Regions from separate parts of the Homo sapiens genome. Here region 2 is linked to region 1. A link means that fine-mapping ties the variant in region 1 to the expression of a gene that starts in the linked region. Tissue or cell type: nucleus accumbens. Region 1 holds a variant in brackets; the other region holds the start of a gene. All regions are shown on one strand. Distances are from middle to middle.

Evidence for each region. PIP is the estimated chance that this variant, and not a neighbour inherited with it, causes the effect.
Region 2: it holds the start of LINC02987, and the variant in region 1 is fine-mapped to the expression of LINC02987 in nucleus accumbens (GTEx, PIP above 0.99).

What each region holds. Positions count from the first base shown.
Region 1 is chr19:28,529,129-28,537,232 of GRCh38, reverse strand. It overlaps the pseudogene LOC100420587. Among named protein-coding and RNA genes, the nearest start is that of ERVE-5, 74 kb to the left of the region's middle. The variant C/T (reference allele first, on the strand shown) is at 3,857.
Region 2 is chr19:27,789,839-27,797,942 of GRCh38, reverse strand. LINC02987 (long intergenic non-protein coding RNA 2987) reads right to left here and starts at 4,512. Exons shown (of 7, transcript NR_146733.1): 1 at 4,334-4,512. LINC00662 (long intergenic non-protein coding RNA 662) reads left to right here and starts at 4,003. Exons shown (of 3, transcript NR_027301.1): 1 at 4,003-4,411; 2 at 4,711-4,943; 3 at 6,042-7,450. RefSeq lists enhancers at 1,843-2,624, 3,791-4,270.

The sequences.
Region 1 (8,104 bases):
ATACGAACTCAGACCCTTCATGGTTCTTGACAATTTCCTTTGAGATTTTTTTTTTGACCTATGCATTAGGTAGTAGTTGTTTAATTTCTAAATATTTTGCATAATTCCAGGCATGTTATTTTTATTGATTTCTAATTTAATTCTGTTGTGGTCAGAGAACCTACTATGTAAGATCTCAATCCTTTAAAAACATTGAGACTTATTTTGTGTCCCAGCATATTGTATCTAAAATATATGTTTCATGTGCACATAAACAAGTTACATATTTATAGTGTATGGATGCAATGTTTATTGTTAACCCAGTAAAATTGGCTAATAATGTTATTCAAACAAATAGTTGTTTTTCTTAGGCTTGCTCTTTGTGTGGAATATTTATTTGCATCTTAGTACTCTCAAACAATCTGCAGTTTTATATATAAAGTATGCCTCTTATAGGTAGCATATGGTTGGATATTGCTTTTAATATCTAGTGTGACTATTACTGCATCTTAATAGGAATGTTTAGTACATTTACATTTAATGTAATTATTGGTATGGCTGGGTTTAAGTATATCTATCATATTGCTATTTGTTTTTTTAGTCATCCCAACTATTTTTTTCCTTTGTTCTTCCTTTCTTGCCGTCACATGGATTAATCAGATATTTTTAGTGTTTCATTTTAATTTATCCACTGATATTTAGCTTAACTTCATTGTATATTTTAGAGATTTTTCTAAGTATTTATATACACATATACTTACCATAGTCTACTTAGAGTACATACTGTGCCACTACTTATACAATGCAAGAAACTTCTAACAGTAAAACTACTCTCCTCTTACAGTCCTTTATGCTATCATTGTATATATTTTGTTATCTATCCACATAATAAATGATATAATACAATGTTATTCTTTCTGGTTTAATCAGTCAATTTTATAAATTCCCAGCCTGGGCGACAGAGAGAGACTCTATCTCAAAAAAAAAACAAAACAAAATTAGCATACAGTAGAATTGGCCCTTTTGGTATTGGTATACAGATGCATGCATATTAACACACGTATGTTGTTACTGTTATATTAACTGTTATAGTAATACTGTTATATATATACTGTTATATTAACTGTTATATTAACATATGTATGTTGTTAATATGCATGATTGGCCCTTTTGGTATATTGGTATACAGATACATGCATATTAACACATGTGTAAACACCACCATAGTCAGAATTCAGAATAGTTCTATCATCCCCAAAACTTTCCTGATTCTGTTCCATTGTAAGTCACACTCACCTCCATTCCGAATCCCTGACAATCAGTTATCTGTTTTCTATCACTGTAGTCTTTTGGAAACTGTTATATAAATGAAATCTGTAGTATCAACTTTGATTCTGGCCTCATTTACTGAGCATTCAGATTGCTACGTGTATCAATAGTTTGTTGCTTTTTAGTGCTAAGTAGTGTTTCATTGTGTGGATGTACTAAAGTTTGCTTATGTATTCACCTAAGGGTTTTAGGGATTTGGGGACTGAGCTAGGAAAAACATATGACAATGAGAGGCAGTAACACACAACTTTATTGAGTGGCAGTAAGACAGGGTTGCATGAGACAGTCTAATGAGACCACCAATGAGAAAGGGAATAAGGCAAGAGAACTCTGGAGGGAGGGTTGAATATGGGGCTTATGTATGTATCTCAAGGGTGTCTCACAGCAGCACAGCAGGAAGTCTTGGGTCAGGCAAACCAAAGGCAGCAGGAATTTTGGGTTTTATAACTGCAAGGCCCTATTTATCAGTAGGTAACAGCTGTTGGGTGAGGTTTCTTGGAGTATGCAAAGCAGGAAAGCTCTAAATAGCTAAAAATTTGCTTGTTCAGGCAATTTTATAAATAACTCGGTATGTACAAATTTGAGTTTGGTTTGGGCAGGATTTTGAGCTAACTGGTCTCAACCTACAATAAACATAGGGGCCAAAACACAGAGGCCATCTTTGGCTCATTTATGTAACCATTCATCCCTTGAAGAACATCTGGGTTGTTTCCAGTGGGCAATTATAAACAGAGCCTCTATCAACATTCCTGTACCAGTTTTAGAATGAACATAAATTTATATTTCTCTAAGTACTCAGGAGTAGAATTGACGTTCTGTCATATGGTAAGTGTGTGTTTCACTTTATAAGAAACTTGCTGTTTCCCAGAGTGGCTGAACCATTTTGCATTCCCACAGCAATGTTTGCAGTTCCAACTGTTCTGCATGGTCACTCTCACTTGACATTGTCGTTATTTTTATTTATGTGTGTAATTGCATTTCAACAAGGTTTTAATTTGCATTTTCATAATGACTAACGATGTTAAATATCTTTTCATGTGCTCATTTGCTCTCCTTAAATACTGTTTGGTAAAGTGTCTGTTCACCTCTTTTGCCCATTTTTTAATTTGGTTGTTTGCTTACTTATTGTTGAATTAAAAAATTTCCTTTTAGATTCTGAATGCAAGTCTTATGTTGGATATGTGATTTGCGCATATTTTCTCCCAATCTGTAGCCTTTCTTTTTACTCTCTTAGCAGTGTTGTTTCAGAGTTAAAGTTTTTAATTTTGATGTAGTCCAATTTGTCCAAAAATTAATTTTCAGTTTTTATATTTTGAAGGTTTGTTTTTAGCTTCCATATACATTTAGGGTTTTTATGTAATTCTTATAAATGAACTCTTTTATTATTGTATGATATCCTGCTAAATTTGTTTGCTCTGAAGTCTACTTTGTCTGATATTAATATAACCACTTGAGCTTTCTTTTGGTTAGTGTTTGCATTTTGTATCTTTTCTCCTAATTTTAATGTACTGATATCTTTATGCTTGAAGCAGAATTTTTATAGAGAGTATATAATTGGATTATGTATTTTTAAAAACTTGTTCTGACAATCTCTTTATTTGGTGCATTTAGATCATTTACCTGTAATGTAATTGTTGATGTGTTTGAATGTAGTTCTATCATTTTATTCTTTGTATCTCCTTGTTCCTCTGTTTATCATCCCTGTGTGTTCCCATTCCTGCCTTCTTTTGGGTTATTTAATAATTTTTTTTTTTTTTTTTAGACAGAGTCTTGCTCTGTCGGCCAGGCTGGAGTGCAGTGGTGCAATCTTGGCTCACTGCAACCTCCGTCTCCCTGGCTCAAGCGATTCTCCTGCCTCAGCTTCCTGAGTAGCTGGCACTACAGGTGGGCGCCAACACGCCCAGCTAATTTTTGTATTTTTAGTAGAGACGGGGTTTCACCATGTTGGCCAGGCTGGTCTTGAGTTCTTGACCTCAGCCCGCCTCTGCCTTCCAAAGTGCTGGGATTACAGGTGCGAGCCACTGTGCCCGGCTTATTTAATAATTTTTAATTCAATTCTATATCTTGTGTTTTTGAATACATCTCATTGTGTACGTACTTTTTTTAAATTAAAAAAAGTGGTAGCCCTAGTAATTACAATATTTTCATTTAAATGTTCACTATCTACACAGAATCAGTATTTTACTGTATCATGTGTTTTGAAATCTTACCTCTCTATAGGTTCCTTCTTCCCCCTTTATGTTGTAATTTCTTATATGATTTTTTTTTTTTTTTTTGAAACGGAGTCTCACTCTGTCACCCAGGCTGGAGTGCAGCGGTGCCATCTCGGCTCGCTGCAAGCTCCACCTCCCGGGTTCACGCCATTCTCCTGCCTCAGCCTCCCGAGTAGCTGGGACTACAGGTGCCCACCACCACGCCCGGCTAATTTTTTGTATTTTCAGTAGAGATGGGGTTTCACCGTGTTAGCCAGGATGGTCTCGATCTCCTGACCTCATGATCCGCCCACCTCGGCCTCCCAAAGTGCTGGGATTACAGGCGTGAGCCACCG[C/T]GCCCGGCCTATATGTTTATTACGTATTGCATCTACATACTTTGAAATTTCATTTAAAAATATTGTTTTACTTTGAAACATAACATATTTTAAAGAATTCAACAGAAGAATAGTTTACTCAATTTTTTCGTATATTTTAAATTTCTTTTGCTTTTTTAAAATTTCTGCTCTGAAGTTTCTTTCTGGTACCATTTCCTTTGTGTCTAGTGACTACTTTAGCAATTCTCTTAGAGCAGGTCCACTGACAATGAATTCTCTTGGTTTTACTTTAAATGAGAACTTCTTTATTCTCCTTTTTTTTGGAAACATACTTCACATACCATAAAATGTACCTTTTTAAAGTACACAATTTGTTTTTTATTTTTTTTTTTTTGCATATTCTCAAAGTTGTGCAACTATCACCATTACCTAAAGCTAGAACCTTTATATCACCACCACCACCCGTAAAATCCCTGTATACATTAGCAGTTCATTCTTCTTTTCTACCTAGCCCCTAGCCATCAATAATCTTTCTGTCTCTATGAATCTGTCTATTCTGGACATTGCCTACAACTGAAATCATAGAATATGTGGCGGTTTCTTTCTGGCTTCTTTCACTTTGCACAATTTCTTTGAGTTTTATCCATATTAGCATGTATCAGAACTTAAGTATTTTTTACAGCAGAATAGCATTTCATTGTATGGATATAACATATTATATTTATCTACTCATCAATTGATTGATAGTTGGAGTGTTTGTATCTTTTGGCTATTATGAATAGTGCTGCTATGAATATTCATGTATAAGTTTTTGTGTAAATATGTGTTTTCAATTATCTTGGGTCTATACCTAGAAGTAGAATTGTTGGGGCATATGGAACTCTATATTTAATTTTTTTAGGAGCTGCCAAACTGTTTTCCAAAGCAGCTGCATCATTTTATATTCCTATGAGCAATGTGTAAGGGTTTCAATTTCTTCACCTGCTCGCAAACATTTGTTATTGTCTCTTTTTTATTATAGCCATCCTAGTAGATGTGAAGTGGTATCTTATTGTGGTTTTGATGTACATTTCTGAAGAGTATTTTTCTTGGACCTAGAATTCTTGGTTGAAATTTTTTTATTATTATTATTTTGGTATCAGAAATTTTTGATGAGAAATCCACTGTCTTGTGTACTGTTTTCCTTTTTTAAGCAATGCATCTTTTTTTGTCTGGCTGCTTTTAAGATTTTTTCTTTGTCTTTATTTTCAAAGTTTGATTGTAATATGTCTTTGCATTGATTTATTTGTGTTTTCGCTGTTTGCAATTTTCTGAGCTTCTTGAATCTGTAGGTTTATTTTTTCCCCCAAACTTGAAGAGTTTCTATACATTATTTCTTTAAATATTATGTCTCCACTGCAGTCTTTATTATTTCTTTCTACGACTCAGATGAAACAAATGCTAGGCATTTCTATTTTATCCCACAGATTAATTTGTTTTGTTTTGTTTTGAGACAGAGTCTTGCTCTGTTGTCCAGGCTGGAATGCAGTGGCACAATCTCAGCTCACTGCAACCTCTGCCTTCCAGGTTCAAGCGATTCTCATTCCTCAGCCTCCTGAGTAGCTGGGATTACAGGTGCCCACCACCACACCCAGCTAATTTTTGTATTTTTAGTAGAGACAGTGTTTCACCATGTTGGCCAGGCTGGTCTCGAACTCCTGAACTCAGGTGATCCTCCTGCCTCAGCCTGCCAAAGTGCTGGATTATAGGCATGAGCCATCGCACCCAGCCCAGATTAATTTTTAATCAATCTTTTCTTAGTTTTTAAGGTTGAATATTTCTATTGATCTATCCTCAAGTTCCAGTGAACTTTTCACTCTGTCATCTCAATTATGCTATTGAGTACACCTAATGAGTTTTAACATTTTATTCATTGTATGTTTTAGTTCTGGATTTTATATTTGGTTCTTTTGTGTATTGTATATACATTTATGTATGTTTGGCTCTATTTTGGGCTGAGACTTTCTATTACCTGATTTATTTTAAAGATGCTTAGGCCAGGTGCTGTGGCTCATGCCTTTATTCCGTGCACTTTGGGAGGCCTAGGCAAGTGGATTGCCTGAGCCAGGAGTTTAAGACCAACCCAGGCAATGTGGTGAAACCCCATTTCTACTAGATAGATAGATAGATAGATAGATACATACATACATACATACATACATACATACATACATACATACATACATAGAACCAAAGTTAGCTGGGCATGGTGGTATCTGTCTACAGTCCCAGCTACTCATGAGGCTGAAGTGAGAGGATGGCTTGAGCCCAGAAGACAGAGGTTGCTGTGAGCAGAGATCATGCACTCCACTCCAGCCTAGGCAACAGAGCCAGACTCTGTCTCAAAAAATTAAAAATAAAAATAAATACGTTTACCCTTACTAGTGGGATAATTATCAAAGCCTTTGTCAGACAAATTTAGCATCAGTTGGAAAGGTTTACTGTTGGATGAGTTCCAATATCTGACTGTTGTCATCCGTTGGTTGTCTTTTCTCATGCAATTTGTAATTTCATTGGTTCTTCATGTGCCATGTAATTTGGTATTATATTCTGGACATTTTCAATATTGTGTACTACAGGACTGGGTCTTGTATATACCCTGTGGAGAATATTGACATTTTTGTTTTAGCAGCCAATTGACCTGATTGGGCTTAGATTGTAAATTCTGAGTGGCCTTCTCTGGGATAAAGTCTCTATATTAGTTTACTTTTAACAGCCTTTGCAGTCCTATTTAAATTTGTCCTACATGTGTACCCTCTGGTGGTCAATCTGGGACATGGGTCATGGTCTCTTAGTTTAGTTCTCAATGTCTTTGTAGGCTGCTTTGAATCAGAACCTGAATGCTAAACTTGAGGTTGATTTCAGGAGTTCATAAACACCTTAATGGTATTGTTTCCCAAGCTCCTCCTTTTCTGCAGTCTTGGTACTGGGATTCTCCTTTTTTAGTCCTCTAGCCAAAAACCTGAAGTTTTATTTACTTTGCTTTTGCACTTTCTTTCTGGAACTATGTCTATATCCAAGGCCAACCAGTGTGTATCTGGAGAGAGTAGGGGGCAGAGAGGAAAAATCAACAGGAACTTGCCTCACCCCCTTTGGACAGTAGCTCTTTTCACTGAAGAGGAAGGCTCTTCTTTCTTTGAGTTCCCAGCGCTGTGGGTTCTGGCTGCCACAACTTGTATTAACAGGAGACCCCTTTTCCTCTTCTTGAGCCTGAACTAGAGGGCTTCTCTTCGAGATCTTTTTATCAATGCTTATTGTGTTTCTGGAGTTCTGGCTGCCTTGAGACCAGGTCAAGAGATACCACAGGGAAAAAAAAAATGGTGAATGACATGTTGAATACAAGCAGAGACACTTGACACCTTAGTGTTGAGCATGACTTTAATGAGAATGATTTTTAAATTTCACTGTTACATATGATGTTTTCTGTGGCTTTTAAATTAAATATCTTTCATTAAGCTTTTCATTTTTACTTTTCTTATTGTAATATATGTTTTATTATGTGTATAGATTGAATTTTATTGAATACTGTTTCTTTTCCTATTGAAATAACCATATAATTTCCTGGTTTGTTAATGTGGTAAATTATATCAATAGGTTTTCTGATTTGGGCCCCTTATACTTCTGGAGTAAAGAGGCTCTTAAATTAAACATAAATGTGGTGGTACACTTTATTACAGGTTTTACACAAAAATGAATTAACCCAGTGTTACATTGGTGGTCTCTGCTGTGTTAAATGTTTTAGTTTAGAGGGTTTTATATTTGGTTACAGATTTCCGTATGGTTGTATATTTATTGTAGCTTTAAATAGTTGAAATATTGCTTTTGATATGAAATTTAAATCAGACTTTATCTTTTTTCTGAGGTTGGTTGGAAGACATGAAGCTGAGCTGTTTCGTATTTTGTTGGGCATTTACTCAGAGTAGGCAGCTGCCAATAAGAATCAAGGGTATTAGAAGACACCCAAAAGGCCCTCAGTTTTGGCCATGACAGTGTAACTAGTACTAGACTTTCATTCCCACAGAAAACTACTATTAAATTAGACAAACATGAAGCAGGTGTTTTCAGACACTGAACATTACACAGTGCAGAACTGTGATTGTTGAGAGAAAGGAAACACACAAAATGAGCCTCAAGGTGTTACAGAACAGAGATATACAGGAAAGGACTCCCAATCCAGACCCCAAGAGAGGGTTCTTGGATCTCGCACAAGAAAGAATTTAGGGCAAGTCC
Region 2 (8,104 bases), 740 kb after region 1:
AGTGTCCACTGGATCAGGTTTGGATGCTCTTTCTCTGCAGATTGGTCCTTGTGTTCTATATGACAGGTGGGAGAGCTCTGTCTCCAGAGCTGTAGCAGTAGATGGGATAGTGGTCTCTCCTTATCAGCACTGTGGGGAAAACATTCTCGGGATTCTACCCTTTCTTCTCTAACAGGCCTTGTAGTGTTCCTAGAAAAAATATACAGAAAAATGTAAACTCTATGTCTGTAGACTCCAGGGTTTCTCATTCTCCTCACCCACTGACACACAGCCACCAGGAACTAGTTCAAATGTTCTGGCTTAATTATACCAGTTCACCAGGGTGCACTTGAAAGCCTGGGGCCAGGCTCCTGCATGCCCTGATGTTGAGTTTGTTGTCTTCCCCATGACCTCAGTTCTCTAAAGGGCTCAGGAGAAATCGACCATGCGTTTGTAGTTTCTCCAGCTTTTTTGTTTGTTTGGTTGGTTAATGTGTAGGAACAACTCTTTTTGTCAGGTCTCTACATCTACAATCTTAACTCAGAAACTAATATTTTTAGATATATTTCTTTCCTGTTATACCTTTAGTGCTCCTCTGCCTATGCTACTTGTTCTTCAGTATTTTTATATTGTATGTCTTTATCTCTCTATTTTAAAACCAGGTTTAATTCCTTCTTAATCTAATTAACAACTTTTCTATTTTCTTTCATTTATTCTCCTACGTGACTTTCTTCTGAGGCATTTAAAGTATTGATGTGTGTTTCGAGTGCAGGAGGTCAGATTATACATTGACATTTGTCCTTGACCACTGCACATATCACTTCAGCCCTGATTACCTGAAGCCAGATCTACTCTTAACATGTATTAATTTTACTATTCAATAAATATTAAGTCATCATGAACTGTATATATTGTTGCAGTTGTAGGCTTTATGGACCTGAATAGACAATAAACTAAATAAAAACCAAATTACATGGCCTCAAGGGGTATAATTTTTGATTAATGTTTTGGTTAATGAAAACATTCTTGTCTTTCTGTGATTTGCAACCTTGAGTGATTGTCTTGAAATAGGAACCACAGTTGAAACTGAAGTAGTTAGGTGTTAGTGAGATTTTGATGGCTAGGAACATCAGGCTTATTTTATAACTGAAAGGGAAATGAGAACACGTCACCAGTTCCATATGATCACAATGCATTTGGAATAATCACCATGGCAACCCATGACTGTTGTATTTTGAGAGAGAAGAATTGGAAATATAATGACCAAGCATAAAGCTGACCCAATCTAACATAGATCTTTGTCTTTAACACATATCTGTAATATTCATGTAGGCAGTGTATAAATAACTTATCAGAATTATCATTTATGTGCAGGTTCTTCTTTAATTTTCAAGGTTTTGTTTCTCCAGTAGTGAGTGTGGTACTGAGCAAAAGGGGCTTGCTATGCAATGCACAATAAATTAACACTTTGACACTGTTTTTATTTTTTATTTTTTAAAAAGCTTTTATTATAAATTTTGTTAGTTTTAAATTTTTTTTAATGTCAATATCATTTGGGTACAAGTGGTTTTTGGTTACATGAATGAATTATATAGTGTTGGATTCTGAGATTTTAGTGCACTTGTCACCTGAGTAGTATATATTGTACTCAACAGGTAGTTTTTTCATCCTTCATCCACCTGCCACCCTCATGTCTGAGTCTCCAAAGTCCATTATGTCACCCCGCATGCCTTTGCATACGCATGGCTTAGCTCCAACTTATAAGTGAGAACATATGGCATTTGATTTTTAATTCCTGAGTTATTTCACTTGGAATAATGGCCTCCAGCTTCATTCAAGTTGCTGCAAAAGACATTATTTCATTCCTGAGGTGCTGACCTCAGGTTTACTGGACACGTCTCAGAGACAGGGCAGGGGATGAGGGCAAGACCCCTCTAAGGCACTCCCCCACACCCTATCACTCCTGCTCTTAAAGGACCCCTGAAGGGCACTGAAGGGGTTGGACTTCTCAGTGCAAGCCAACACCCACACCTCCGAGTACCAACAGCCCCAGAGAACAGCAGGGGTCCTCAATCCTGAGCACCCCTCCAAGGAGGTCAGGAGAACAAGCCTTAAGCCAGAGAGTGAAGAGGATCAGTGTCTCGGACCCAGAGAGGATTCAGGGAAAGGGCACAGGAGGGACCCCAGTCCAGAGCCAGACAGAGTTCAGCTGAATGTGGGAACTCATGCCATGGAGTGGATAGCCCTGGATGACTGAAGAGCCCAGTGCCCAGGGGCGTCTCACCCACTGTGGAGACAGGCCCTTATATTAGGTGGCAATGGGGCCACCTGAGTTCTGGACCATGGCTCAAGCCCAGGCCAAGCAGCCCTGGAGTAAGGGCATGAGGCAGGGGGCCCCAAGCCAAGTTGAACACTGGGGTACCGTCCCTGGAGCAGCCTGGGGTACCCTGACAGCACCCATGCCCCAGTCTGCACACACCCCTTGTTCTGAAATTAACAGCCTGCAGGGGTGTCCTCAGTATCAGAACTAGTGGGCCACACAAAGCCCTGGAGGACTCTACAAACCCAGGTCCATGGGGAGCAGCCCTGTAAGGGCCAGATGGCTGGGTGGAAAAGCTGACCAAGTCTTCCTTCCTTTCAGCCAAATCTGGAAGAAAGGCACCTTGCCTAGAGCAGTGTTCCTGGTACCCAGGCCTCTGTGGGCATCCTTCAGCACAAAGACCCTCTCCAAGGGGGGATGGGCTGGCCCTCCCAGGACCACCAACCCACTTCCAGAAGCCCATGGGTCATCCCCACCTTCACCTGACTGGGCTGTCCCTGACGCTAAGGCCCAGCAGCACGAAGGGGATTCCACACAAATCAGGGCAGTAGGCTGCTCTCTGGCGGCACTGGGGGCTTAGGGTCTGGCCAGCCTGTCCCTGGCTCAGGACACATGCCTGGAAATTAGGGTTTTCTCCTCTGCTCTTAGCATCTCCTGGGTAAACCAATAATTACTCTCCCTCATGTCTCAAAATTCACATCTATCTAAAAGGCGCTAGTGAGGGTGACATTTCCAGGAAGCCATAGCCCATGTCACCCCCTGCAAAGCTGTGACCTTTTCCGCGGGCAGGCCAGGCGGCGGAGTTCTCCCAAAAGCGGATGAACTGGCACTCTGGCTGGAGAAAGCAGAGAGCAGCAGCACAATGGACAGCGTCTGGGACCTCAGGCCGATTCCACAGCAGCTTAGGAAAGCAGGAGGCCCCCTGGGCGGGAGGAGGCTTGATGCTCTGGAGGGAAACGGAACTGAGCAGCGGGAGGTGGGGTGAGCCTGAGACCCGACCGATTTTGGCAAAGGCGAGGCGCACTTTGCAGTATCATACTCTCCTCACTGCCCAGCCCAGACCTGCCCTTCAAGTCCCTCTATGGACTCACTCCCCTTAGCCAGGGGTGGCACAGATTCAGTAGCCAGCATGGGTTTGGAAACAGAGGTCAACACCGCCCTGCCCCTCCCTGCGGGGCTGCGCAACACCCTTGAACCCTGCGCATGCTGAGACTGTAGTCCCATAGCCCTGCGACCAACGGCCGGAAGCAGCTAAGACACTATTACCAGCATGCCCGGCAGGAGGGCACCGCGCTGCCCCCCCCCCTCAAGGGACCAGCATCATCCCCACTCCCGTAGCATACTGGGATTGTAGTCCCGCAGCTCTGCCACCAACAGCCAGAAGCAGTTAAAAAACTGTTCCTCTCAGCATGCCCTGCAAGGCGCGCACCGCTGCTGTACCTCCCTTAACGTATCCGTAACCTCCCTCAACGTATCCGTACCTCCCTCAACGTATCCATACCTCCCTCAAGGTATCCGTACCTTCCTCAAGCTATCCGCACCACCCTCTCTTCCATTTCATGCGAAGATTGTAGTCCCGCAGCCCTGCGACCAGCGGCCGGAAGCAGCTAAGATGCTACTGCTCCCAGCATGCCCCGCGAGGCGCGCACAGCACAGGCCCTCTCTCAAGGTCACCACCTCCACTCCCGTTGTATGCTGGGATTGTAGTCCGGCCGCCCTGTGACTAACGGCTGGAACCGCCTAAGACACCACCCCAGCCAGCATGGCCGGCAGGAGCGCACCGCGCTGTCTCCCTCCAGGGATCCGCACCGCCCTACAATCCTGCTTTGTGCTGAGATTGTAGTCCTGCAGGCGTACAACTAACAAGCTGGGTGCAGATAAGAGACTACAGCTCCCCGCATCCCAAGCAAAGGTCCCTCCTCTACGGAGCCCCTCCACGCGTCCACTGCGGTTCCGCCGTGCCAAGGGGAGCTTGGCTGTTCACGGGCCTCACCTGCTAGCGAGAAGATAGCTTGGCCGGGCGGCTGATCTCACCTTGTAATTCTGACACTGTGTCTCCCGGGCTTGTCGGCTTCATGACTTGTGCCCAAAGTTTGATTTCTCGCAGACCAGGTAAAAGCCAAGAGGCTCTCATAGGCGCCTTGGCAGAGTTGCCATTGGAACGGGCGTCCTCTAGTAGCTGGGATCTCCCCGCCCCTTCCTCCTGAGGGGCCACTCCTTTCTGCCCCACCCTTCTTATTGCCCCACCCTTTGCCACACTCCTTCAGAGATGCGCAGTGCTGCCCCTTTCTATGGGCAGGGCCGAAGGTCCGCGTGTAAAAGTACCCAGTCCCTGGTAACCTGACACTTCCCTTTTAAAAGCCACCTTTTGTCTATCTCTGGCCTGCCACGATTCTTCCTGTGCTCCATAGGAGGACCCATTGGACCCCCGGGCTGGCTGCAGGGCCCACACCTGGGTTAGACCTCGCACAGGGACGCTGCTGCCACTGTAATAAAGCGTGCCTACACGCTTCTGAAACTGGTGTAGGAACAACCTCAGTTCTGTGAAAGGCGGACGCAGCAGGACAGAATCTCCGTGGACATCTGTCTGGAGGAGCAATTTTACTGCGACATTTTAAAGAAACAAATTTAATTGATTTCCAAGGTAAGAAATTAAACCTTGAAAACTAAACTGAAAAGTCATCTGTGTTTGACAAGTCAGACTTTCTCCAAGAAGAAAACTAAGGAGTGCATATTTTCCATTATTATAAATAGTGAAAATGAGAAATCATAGCAACTCCCTGGAAAATCTTGCTCTGCCAGTTTTCTAAATCACAGTAGGGCCTCGATATGGTTTTATTTGTTTTTGTTTTTGTTTTGGAGTGTGTTCACCTTTTGAATATAAGAATTTGCGGTTTTGACCAAGTTTTTAAATTTTCAGCTATTGTTTATTTGTTTTTGTATTATATTTAATTTTTCTGTCTCTCCCTCTCTGTCTCAGACTCAATCATTTCACAGGTCTCTTAGGCCTCTTTTCATTTTCTTTAAACTTGTTTCAGTCTTCAGATTGGATGGTTTATATTGCTGTCTTCTGTTTCTACTCTGTAAACTAAAAGTTCTTTTTATTTTATTATTTTATTGTCTTCTATTTTACTCTTTTTATAATTTCCATGTCTCTGCTGAGACTCTACATGAGTTAATTCATTATGAGAATATTTTCCTTTACCCCCATGAACGTACTTATAATAGCTGCCCTGAAATACTTGTCTGCTGATTACATCATCTCGGACATCTTAGAAATAGCTTCTGCTGCCTGCTTTTTATCTTGTGTATAGTTTGCATGTTACATTTCTTCACACATTTTATGAATTTTAATATTGTGTAATAGAAATTATAAATATTAGTTATAGAGACTAAATTCTGTTGTATTCTTTGGAAGAGCATTGTTATTATTTGAAGAGGGGGTAAATGTGGCTGAATTCAAACAGAATAATTATCTTCCCTACGGTGGGAAAGGTTGAAATTCTCATTCAGTCACACACACGTATGTATGTATTGTATATAGATGAATGTTTCTATGTAACTATATATAATATTTTATCCAGATTGTATCATTGTTATCTGTGAGAGTGTTAGTTTAGCAAGCTACTCCAGTATTACCGGAAGCCAGAACTTCAGTTTTGTTTTCTTACTGGATTTTATGTAAATGAGAGTATCTACTATGGATAGTTTTACACCTACTTTTTCTTTTTTTCTTTTTTAGTTATTTGAGACAGAGTCTCGCTCTGTCACCAGGCTGTACAGTGCCGTGGCCTGTCTCGGCTCACTGCAACCTCCACCTCCTGGGTTCAAGCGATTCTTATGCCTCAGCCTCCCAAGTATCTGGGACTACAGGCATGCGCCACCACGCCCAGCTGATTTTTGTATTTTTAGTAGAGACGGGGTTTCACCATGTTGACCAGGATGGTCTCAATCTCTTGACCTCGTTATCCGGCTGCCTCCTCCTCCCAAAGTGCTGGGATTACAGGCGTGAGCCACCATGCCTGGCCACATCTACTTTTTTAAATGTGTCATTATATTTGTGATATTGTCATGATGTTTTCTACTTATATTTTATTCAAAAATTTTATACTTTAAGTTCTTACCTTTAGGTCTTTGATGCATTTTTATTTGTTTATGGTGTAGGGTAAATGTTCAACTTCATCCTTTTGCTTGTGGATATCCATTTTTTCCCAGCACCAATTGTTATAAAGACAGTCCTTTGCCCATTGAACGGTCTTTGTATCCCCATCAAAAATTATTTGACCATATGCTGCTTTATACTGTTCCAGTGTCCATATGTGTGTCTCTTTGCCAGTACCACACTATTTTGGAACTTTGTATTAAGCTTTGGAATGAATAAGTGTACATTTTGTAACACTGGACTTCTTTTTCAAGATAATTTTGACTCATTGGGGTCCCTTGAGATTCCATATGAAATTTAGGTAGGATTTTTCTATTTCTGCAAAATAGAATTTTTTGCTTTTTTTGTTACTCCCGACGTATTTTATTCTTTTCAGTGCTATTGTAAATGTGCTTGTTTGCTTAGTTTTGTTTTCTAATTATTCATCATTACTGTATAGAAACACAAGTGATATTTGCATGTTAATTTTGTATGCTGCTACTATGCTGAATTTATTAGTTGTAATACTTTTTGTGTGGATCTGTGAAATCTCTAGAGCTTTCCACATAAAATTATATTATCTGTAGGCTAGAGTAATTTTACCTCTACATTTCCAATTTGGATAGTTTGTTTCTTTTTAATTCTTAATTTGACTAGAACTTCCAACACTATGTGGAATAGAAATAGCAAAAGCAGACACCTTTGCCTTGTTCCTGAGCTTAGAGCAGAAGCTTTTTGTCTTTCACCCTGGAGTACATTGTTTGATGTGGTTTTTTAATGTGTGGATTTCACAATGGTAGTATTTTAGTTTTAAAATTCCTACTTTTTTGAGTGTTTTCACCCTGAAAAGATTTTGAATTTCATAAAATACTTTTCTCTGCATCCATGAGGTGATCAATGTTTCTTTTATTTTGTTAATGTGTACACATTGATCAATTTTTATATGTTAAAAAATTCATGTTTTAAGATATCCTTGCATTCTAAGAATAAATTGCACTTGGTCGTGGTGAGATCATCTTTCTTTTTTTTTAAATTTTATTATTATTATACTTTAAGTTATAGGGTACATGTGCACAATGTGCAGGTTAGTTACATATGTATACATGTGCCATGCTGGTGTGCTGCACCCATTAAATTGTCATTTAGCATTAGGTATATCTCCTAAAGCTATCCCTCCCCGCTCCCCCCACCCCACAACAGTCCCCAGAGTGTGATGTTCCCCTTCCTGTGTCCATGTGTTCTCATTGTTCAATTCCCACCTATGAGTGAGAATATGCAGTGTTTGGTTTTTTGTTCTTGCGATAGTTTACTGAGAATGATGATTTCCAATTTCATCCATGTCCCTACAAAGGACATGAACTCATCATTTTTTATGGCTGCATAGTATTCCATGGTGTATATGTGCCACATTTTCTTAATCCAGTCTATCGTTGGACATTTGGGTTGCTTCCAAGTCTTTGCTATTGTGAATAGTGCCGCAATAAACATACGTGTGCATGTGTCTTTATAGCAGCATTATTTATAGTCCTTAGGGTATACACCCAGTAATGGGATGGCTGGGTCAAATGGTATTTCTAGTTCTAGATCCCGGAGGAATCACCACACTGACTTCCACAATGGTTGAACTAGTTTACAGTCCCACCAACAGTGTAAAAGTGTTCCTA